2 separate regions of the Homo sapiens genome follow, and region 1 is linked to region 2. Evidence: fine-mapped expression QTL. A gene starts in region 2. The other region holds a variant in brackets. All regions are shown on one strand. Distances are between the middles of the regions. Region 1 has its middle 61 kb from the start of CD24. Region 2 holds the start of CD24 (CD24 molecule).

The links. PIP is the estimated chance that this variant, and not a neighbour inherited with it, causes the effect.
Region 1: its variant is the best candidate, but not a certain one, in a credible set for the expression of CD24 in unexposed skin (GTEx, PIP 0.69).

The regions. Positions count from the first base shown.
Region 1 is chr6:106,911,575-106,915,962 of GRCh38, reverse strand. No RefSeq gene overlaps it. Among named protein-coding and RNA genes, the nearest start is that of CD24, 61 kb to the left of the region's middle. RefSeq lists an enhancer at 2,129-2,198. The variant T/C (reference allele first, on the strand shown) is at 2,674.
Region 2 is chr6:106,972,121-106,976,508 of GRCh38, reverse strand. CD24 (CD24 molecule) reads left to right here and starts at 1,780. Exons shown (of 2, transcript NM_001359084.1): 1 at 1,780-1,931. The coding sequence starts at 1,863. RefSeq lists silencers at 1,019-1,238, 1,279-1,428.

The sequences.
Region 1 (4,388 bases), 61 kb after region 2:
TTTCTCTTTATTTGAGACAGGGTCTCACTCTCTTGCCCAGGCTGGACTCAAACTCCTGAGCTCAAGTGATCTTCCTGCCTTGACCTTCCAAAATGCTGGGATTACAGGCATGAGCCACTGTTCCTGGCCTATAATAAATCTTGAAATCAGGTCGTGTATAAGTCCTCTGACTATTCTTTTTCAAAATTGTTTGCCTATTCTATGTCGTTTGTATTTCCATATAAGTTTTAAAATTAGCTTGTCAAGTTCTACAAAAAATTTTCTGGAATTTTATTTGGGATTATTTTGAATCTATAGATCCATTTGGGAGGAATTGATATCTTCACAATATTGAGTCTTCCAATCCATGAACAAGGAATGTCTCTCCATATGTTTAGATCATTCTTAATTTCTCAAGGAAATGTTTTGAAGTTTTCAGTTTATATGTCTTGCATATACATTTTGTTAAATGTATCCATAAGTATTTCACATTTTTGAGGTTATTTTACTCTATTGTTTCTTAACTCATTTTCAAATTGTTCATTACTGTTCTATAGAAATACAGTTAATTTTTATGAATTAACCTTTTGTCTTTCATATTTGTTTTATTTACTAATAGGCACAGATTTTAAAAAATCAATCTCAAGACGTTCTACATTGATAATCATGTTATCTGTGATAAAGGCAGTGTTATTTTTTTTCTTTTCAATCTGGGTGCCTTTTATTTCTTTTTTCTTGCCTTATTTCACAGGCTAGGAACTCTGGTACAATGTTGAATAGAAGTGGTTAGAACGGACATTCTTGCTGACCTTCAGGAGAAAACATTTAGTCTTTCACCATTAACTATGATATTAATATTAATGATAAGTTTTTCTCAGATGTTCTTTGTCAAGTTGAGGAAGTTTATTTCTAGTCCTAGTTTGCTGAGAGATTTCATCATGAATGGGTGTTGAATTTTGTAAATGCTTTTTCAGCATCTATTTTTTCTTTTTATATATATATATATATATATAAATACATAAATACATATATATATATATATAAATACATAAATACATATATATTTTAAGAGACAGGGTCTCTCTATGTTGCCAGGGTGGCCTTGGACTCCTGGGTTCAACGATCCTCCTGCCTTGGCCTCTGAGAGTGCTGGAATTACAGGCGTGAGCCACCGCACCTGGACGTCAGCATCTATTAAGATGACCAGATGGGCCAAGCACAGTGGCTCACACCTGTAATCCCAGCACTTTGGGAGGCCGAGGCAGTCAGACTACCTGAGGTCAGGAGTTTGAGACCAGCCATGGTCAACGTGGTGAAACCACATCCCTACTAAAAATACAAAAAATTAGCCCGATGTGGTGGCAGGTGCTTGTAATCCCAGCTACTCAGGAGGCTGAGGCAGGAGAATCGCTTGAGTCCGGGAGGTGGAGGTTGCAGTGAGCCAAGATCGCACCATTGCATTCCAGCCTGGGCAACAAGAGTGAAGCTCCGTCTCAACAAAATAAAATAAAATAAAAAAGGCCGGGCGCTGTGACTCATGACTGTAATCCTAGCACTTTGGGAGGCTGAGGTGGACGGATCACAAGATCAGGAGATCGAGACCATCCTGGCCAACATGGTGAAACCCCATCTCTACTAAAAATACAAAAAATTAGCTGGGTGTGGTGGCGCATGCCTGTAGTCCCAGCTACTCAGGAGGCTGAGGCAGGAGAATCGCTTGAACCCAGGAGGTGGAGGTTGCAGTGAGTTGAGATCGTGCTACTGCACTCCAGCCTGGTGACAGGGCGAGACTCAAAAAAAAAAAAAAGATGACCAGATGGTCCCTCCTGTCATGAGCTTTCATTCTGTTGGTAAAGACAGACATCAAACAAATGAGAACAAAGAATGTGATGTGTGAAAGATAGAGAAGGCCCAGGGTGCTGAGAACCTAACAGGGGCCTAGTCCAGCCCAGGGCCAGAGAGGTCTTTTTCAGGAAGTGAAGTTTAAATTGAGACTGCAAGAGAAGTAGGAAACAGCTAGGTGAAAGGAGGTACAAAGCAAACAGGAGCTGAGGTCACAGGACCTGTGTTCCAAATCTGGCTCTGCCGCTTTCTAGTTAGGTGAGGAGGGGAGAGTTCCCACAGAAACTCTGAGTTACATCTTGAGTCATCCTCTTAGCATGTAAGAGACAACTTTGTGAACTTTCCTCTTGATGATAATGTGGAGGTGTCACTTTTTTTTTTCAACCACTCTGTGAGGTCCTATAAGTATCTTTTACTTTACCTCAGCAATTGTTTGTTTGTCTTCTAGTGAACAATGAGATTCGGGTAACGTATCTGATTTCTGTTCTGTCTCAGGCGCCTGGAAGTTCAGAGACAAATCTGAGCCTCTGTTTAGTGACAGAGTACGGCCTTATGCAAACACGTGTTCTAATTTTCTCCTGGTCATAACCTTTTAAAACATTTTGCATTTTTTTGACTTTATATTTTATTGAATATATTTCTTATATCCTATAGACTACTTAAATATTTTATGGAATAAAGTAGATTATAAACAAAAAATAGGTTATATAGAAATATACAAAACTGTAGAAGGGCATAAAAATAAAAACTTCAGAGAAACCACTCCCTTATTACTAAGTTTCTGGGTCACCTAACAGGCCCAGCTGCTTCTCCTTCCTTCTATGACAACTATGTGTCCTGTCCAAAGCTTCC[T/C]GACTCACCCTGTTCCTCAGGTTTTCCTTCTTCTTTCAGGCTGCCCCAGCCCATGATTAACTGTTGTTCCCAAAGCAAACACACAGATCCTTTTTGCTTTAGGCATTTTGAAAAGGTTGTGTTACTGGAAAGTATACTAGGAAGATAATAGAAGAAGCAAACATGAGGAAATTAAAAAGATTCCAGAAAGTTCCCAAGGCCTTACTTGTTCCTGGTCCCTGACTTATGCTTTCTCACTTTCTTTCAATATGGCACTTAGACGAGCCTTTTGAATTTCTGTTCAGCCTTTTCCTCCCACAGTATAACACTTAAAACTCTCTTCCTCATGGTGTGCACTTAGCCCCTTTAAAGGTTCATCTTCCACTCCAGAGGCCCATGAGGACAATCAAGGCCAGACAGTGGCTGCCTCCCATCTTCATAGTAACTTGCTTTTATGAAGACCTCAGGACTTGAGCAGCCCAAGAGGATTAAACCCCAGTGGGCATTTCCTTGCATTCTGTATCTCTTAATGTAATCTCTGTGACTCCCCAAGGTCAAGGCTCTACATCTTAGGTGCAAAATGATTGTGGTTTTGTTGTGATGGCCGCTGGAAGCTCTGCAGTCATCAAGGCAGCAGTGCTAGAACCTGGTAAGAGTGCCGAGGTGAGAGAGCGGGTGGGCAGGGAGGGTGATGCTGGCATTGCTGGGGCAGGCGAGCTGGGGCCTTCGTGCATGTTAGTATGGAGGGCTTCTTCTACCAAGTTTTCAGAGCCATGGGTGGAATGGTGTAGTTCCTGGGCTTCTGCCCTCACCTCCTGGAACTTGCTGAACCCCTCTTCCCTGGCCTGGGTCTCCCTCCCCAAACCAAACAGTGCATGGATATGGCTTCTTCTACTCAAAATCATCTTCAAAATTGCCTTGTGACCAGTCACTCCAGCCAAAGAAAGCAGATGGAGTCTTTCACTAGCAATTCTTTATAGGATCTTATGTTTACTCCATCTTTGGAACACTCAGTCTTTCCTGCCAGGTGCTAAATCCTCTTTATGTTGTGCAACACCCTAAATAAACAGTATATATGCCAATGGGAGTGAATTTCCAGAGGAATTCTGATTTTGTTATTCTTTCTTCATGCCATGTTTTGTTTTTAAAAGACATCAAATTTCCTTTCTTTGCTGACAAATTCCTATCTCTTACCTTTCATTTAACAATGGAACCAAAATGGGAAGCTTTGCCTCAGAAAGCCCTATGGGTAAAATTCTCAATACTGAGAAAAATAAAACCTAAGCCCCACCCCCACCCCCCCCCAAGTAACTGAATGAATCCCATCTTGGCCAAGGGGACTGCAAAGAAACCTTGAAACCTGAGTTCCTGGCCATGATGGGATGGGAGGTCTGACAGGTCAGACATGCCTCATTATACCCCCTCCCTTGATAACTGCCATTAGTCTTTCTTCCCTAAAGATTAAACAGAAACCAACCCTTTTGAAAGACTCCACTGTGGATATCAAACAACTCCCTGACACTGCCCCTCCCTTTTTGTGGTTTTGACACACTGATAAGCCTGCCTTCCTGATAAGAGACCACTGCCTGTGGAGTGGTCCTGGCCAGTCTACAGATGATGTGCACTGAATACCTTCATGTCCTCTGCTTCGCCTTTTGACATTAGAAGGCCCAAAACTCCATCCTTGGATCCATGAAGAGCATAAAGTTCAATTACACAGGGTTGTGTTTCTCCTT
Region 2 (4,388 bases):
TCGACAGAAATTCTTGTGTTCCCAAGCACATCTTAAACGTGCTTGGAAAGTTACTGAGCTAAAGTGACTGACCTTGAAGGCACAAACCAATTCAGTCACTATTCAGTCAACAAACCTACTGCAGATTTCATTGTCACTTTGCTTCCCTGAAACTTACTTTGTTTTAATGAGACTGCCACGCAAAAGTGAAATTTAGACAAATTTAGAATCTTACTACTCTGTGGTTTACTTTAAAGACCGAAAAATGCTTGGGCTAAACCTTAAATAAAAGTATTAAGTCTTGCAATTAAAAATTGAACCAAAAATACTAACGAGAGTGTTCTGCAAAACTGAAATTTAAACAAATTTACAACCATACTAGGTTTGGTCTCTGCTGTTTGCTTTAAAGACTGAAAAACACTTGGGCTAAACCTTCAATAAAAAGATTAAGTCTTGCAATTAAAATTTAAACTCAAAATACTCCACCAGTAAAATTACTTCAACTTTTGTTGTATGCTTGAAAGTTTTCACAATAAGATGGATAGGAAAAAAGTATTCCACCAAAATCTAAAGAGTGATGACGAATCTCCTCTTTGTGCCGGTTCATTAAATTGCCTAATGGCAACTACGGATAAGTAAATGCCTTTATCTCGAACGGTTCTGCTCTTTAAACGAATGACGGGCAACAGAGACCGAAAAAGTGTATCCCCAGGAATTCGAGAGGGACGGTGAATTGTAGTGGGACCGCCAGGAGGGGAGGTTCCTGCCCCCGAGTAGAACCTGGGAGCAGAGCCGCTCGGGGAGGGCGGTGGGGGCTTCAGGGCCGCGGAGGGGGTCCCCTCAGGGTGGGCCGTCTCCTCCTCGCCCGCCGCAGGCAGGAGCGCGGGGGACCGAAACCCTGTAGTTTGCAGCGTCAGGCAGCGGGTCTGCGCCCAGCGAGCGGCTCCCCAGCTCCTGGGAAGATGCGGACCCGGGACGCCCCCGTGAGCTCACTGCGCCTGGCTGACACGAGGCGCTCACAGAACAAAGCAAGGGCTTCGGGGAGGGCGCGGCCGCGGGGCCGAGCGCGCAGATCGCTCCGGACCCGGACACCGCCTGCGAGGAGCGCCGACCAGCCGGGAAGGGTTCGCGCTAGGCGGCGCCCGGGTCCCGTCGGCCAGGGTGAGCGTCCGGCCCGCGTCCGCGCCACGCCCGCCGCGTTCCCCTTTCCTCTGCGGCGGGCCGAGAGATAACCCTGCCCGAGGGGTCCCGGCGCCCGCCCCCCACGCGGTCGCACTGGAATTCGCAGCCCCTCTCGGGTCCCCGGGGCGCATTTTGCAGTCTGAGTGGCAATGCACTTGCTCCAGGACAGGCGGCTACCCCGCCGCAGCGGAGGCGCGGACTTTTCTTTTGGGGGGTAAGATGGCAGGTCCCGGGAAACAAAGGAAACTTGGGCCCGGCCCCCAGCGCGGCGTGTGTGGCTCGCGTGTGTGCCCCGGGTCCTGTGCCGGAGGCGCTGGGCGCCTGTGCCAGCCTGCCCGCAGCCCGCAGCCGGCGCGGGGATACCAGCCGGGTACCAGCAGCCGGCGGCGCCCGCCCACCTGCAGCGGCGCCCGCCCGGGGGGCTCCCGGCCCGCGAGGGCCGGAGCGGCGGTGGCAGTGGCGGCGGCGGCGGGGGCGCTGGGGAACCCGGAGCGGGGCGGGGAAGGCGGGGAGGCGGCGGGCGGCGGCGGAGGGGAGCCGGGGTGGGCGGGCGGCGCCACGTCACGGCTATTGTGGCTTTCCTGGTATATAAGGTCTCGCCGGCTCGCCGCGCTCCCCACCTTGCCTGCGCCCGCCCGGAGCCAGCGGTTCTCCAAGCACCCAGCATCCTGCTAGACGCGCCGCGCACCGACGGAGGGGACATGGGCAGAGCAATGGTGGCCAGGCTCGGGCTGGGGCTGCTGCTGCTGGCACTGCTCCTACCCACGCAGGTGAGGCCCTGGCGCCCGGCGGGGCTCGAGGGCCGTTCCCGGGGTGGGGGCAGGGGAGATGGACCCGGTCCCGGGGGACCGTCCTGCGCTCCTGCCTCGGGCCACGGACAGGGACCGGGAGAGAATCTTGCTTAGCTGACCAGGGGAGAGGGCCATGTGGACCCCATTTTTCCATTCCCTTGCGTGCTGCCCCCCCTCCTCCCACGGCCCTGGGAACAATGCAGCTCCGCGTGCGGGCTGAGAGGACCCTGCCCCACCCCAGGTTCCACGCTGTCCCTTCCCAGGCAGCCAGGTGACTACTTCCCACTTTCACCCAGAGGCCCGAGGTGCCTGCAGGGATTAGCGCCTGGAGAGCTCGGGCTCCCTGGGGACGTTGTCCCTGGGTCCCTGAGGACTCGCTTTCCCCTAGGAATGTCTTCGCGCTCCCCGCGCTCTACACAAAGAGAGGCGACGGTCCCTTTCGGGGAGGGCGGCTCACGCCCATCCTCCACCCTCGGAGTTGGATTGGGTATCCCGGAGAAGCTACGGCTATCTGGCCCTTTTTAAACAAACCCCGGTTCCGGGCTGAAGCCGAGGCGGGGACCCTCTCCTGACGCTGCGCTCTCTGCGAGGCAACCTTTCACGTCCATCGCTTGTCATCTTAGGATCCCCATGTTATTTTAGCCCAGATTGGCTAGTTCTGGGGAGGCAGCATGGTGGGACGATTCTGTCCCGAGTCCCCGCCAGGCTTTGTTCGGGTCGCCGCTACCAGCGCGGTCTCCCTAGATCCTCCATCCGGGGAACCTCGCCCCGGGTGCGGGTACCCGGGGCCGCGCAGCGCTGCCTCGAGGGTGTATGGATGCACCGCGCCGGCGAGAGAGACCGGGGGCTGGGCCTGGGAGACCCTAGCGGGGGCGGGGGCGAAGAAGGTACGTTTGTTTGGGTCAGTTCGGGTTTGGAGGATGGGAGTGACGGCTCTCCAGCGCCTTCGATTGGGGTTAATCGAGGACTGTCACTGGGGCTTCTCCCCCAAAGTTGGGCGCGCTGCGTCCTCCGTCCCCAGACATCGAAAGTCCGGGCTCACCTGGGAGTGCAGCCTGAGTGTGGAACGCGCTTCCCCACCGCTGGCGGGGTAACCGTACCCTATTGTCTTCCTCCCAGTCCGCTGCGCTCCCGAGCCTTCCTCAATTCTTTGATGGGGGAGGGGCGCGGCTGCGAGAAACCGGCCCCCTCCACTCCCCGCCCCATCTTCTCTCCGACCAGATTTTTTTCCTCCAACATTGTAAGTGAGAAGTTTTAATAATGCGAATAAATCTAGCTTGGGAGAGAAAATTTTGTTTAGTGTCAGTTTAATAAACATAATTTTTTTGTTGGTGTAGAGGATCTTTAGATCCTCAGATTGATACACCAGGTTTTAAAAAGAAAACATCACCTGCTGCAGTAAAACTCATTGCATGAATAAAGAACAGGTTACTTTGCGGGATCCCAAACAAGGTGTCCAAAACAGGCACCCTGTTTTAAGTAAATTACCATATTAATGCTTTTCTTTATTGGGAGTGCCGTTTCCTGATGGGACACACTAAATCTTGCACACAGTAGGTGCCCGATAAATAAATTTGACTTGATCAAGATTTTTTTGTTGTTGTCACTAATCTATTTTGGATAGGATTTGTACATTTCTGTAGTCAATATTTGTTTAATGACCTTATGGATTTTACAACAAAAGGAGCTGGTGCTGATGTAGGAGGGCTTTATCTTTGGATTAATAGGCAGCCAAATGTACACGGGGCCCAGACTCTTGCCTGGTGCCACGTCCTCCCTCCAGCCTGTAATCAGAAGCTCTTGTAAACCCTCCCTTGCAGTGAGGGCTGAAAACTCCGATCTGCCTTTGTTCCATGACAAAGGAGAGATTATCACGTGCCCTACTGGACTGTGCATTTCGTGGCTTGAAAAATCAGTGGTGAATGATGCCACTCAGACGCTGGGACACTGGGAGAACCTTGGTTCTTGGCCACAGCAATGAGCTTGGCGACCAGTGAGGCTGCTGCTGGTGAAACTTAACACCATAACCTCTCGTTGTCTTTTGTGAAATCGTTCCGACTTCATGGTGTTTTCTTGAAGTCATTCTGCCTTAAAGGAAAAACTCATTTTCTTTTTCAATTTAACACAAATATTGTGGCCATTTTTTAGAAGAGTTACTATTTCAAATTTCAAGGGAGAAGATAAGACTGCATTTCCCCCTTAAGGAAAAGGCTAAGTTACCAAGGCTGTATTAAATTGAGTATGTGAAAGTTACCTAGCAAATCCAGGATAGACAGTGACCCAATGAATTCTAGTTCCATAAGTCTCAGTTACAATATTTAAAAATCCCCATTTTTTTGTGCAACTTTAAAATCTCCCCCTTTCTGGGAAAATAGACCTTATTGCAATGCCATTAAGTCAATATAATCTTGGAAACTGAATTAGTTAACCTGGTCC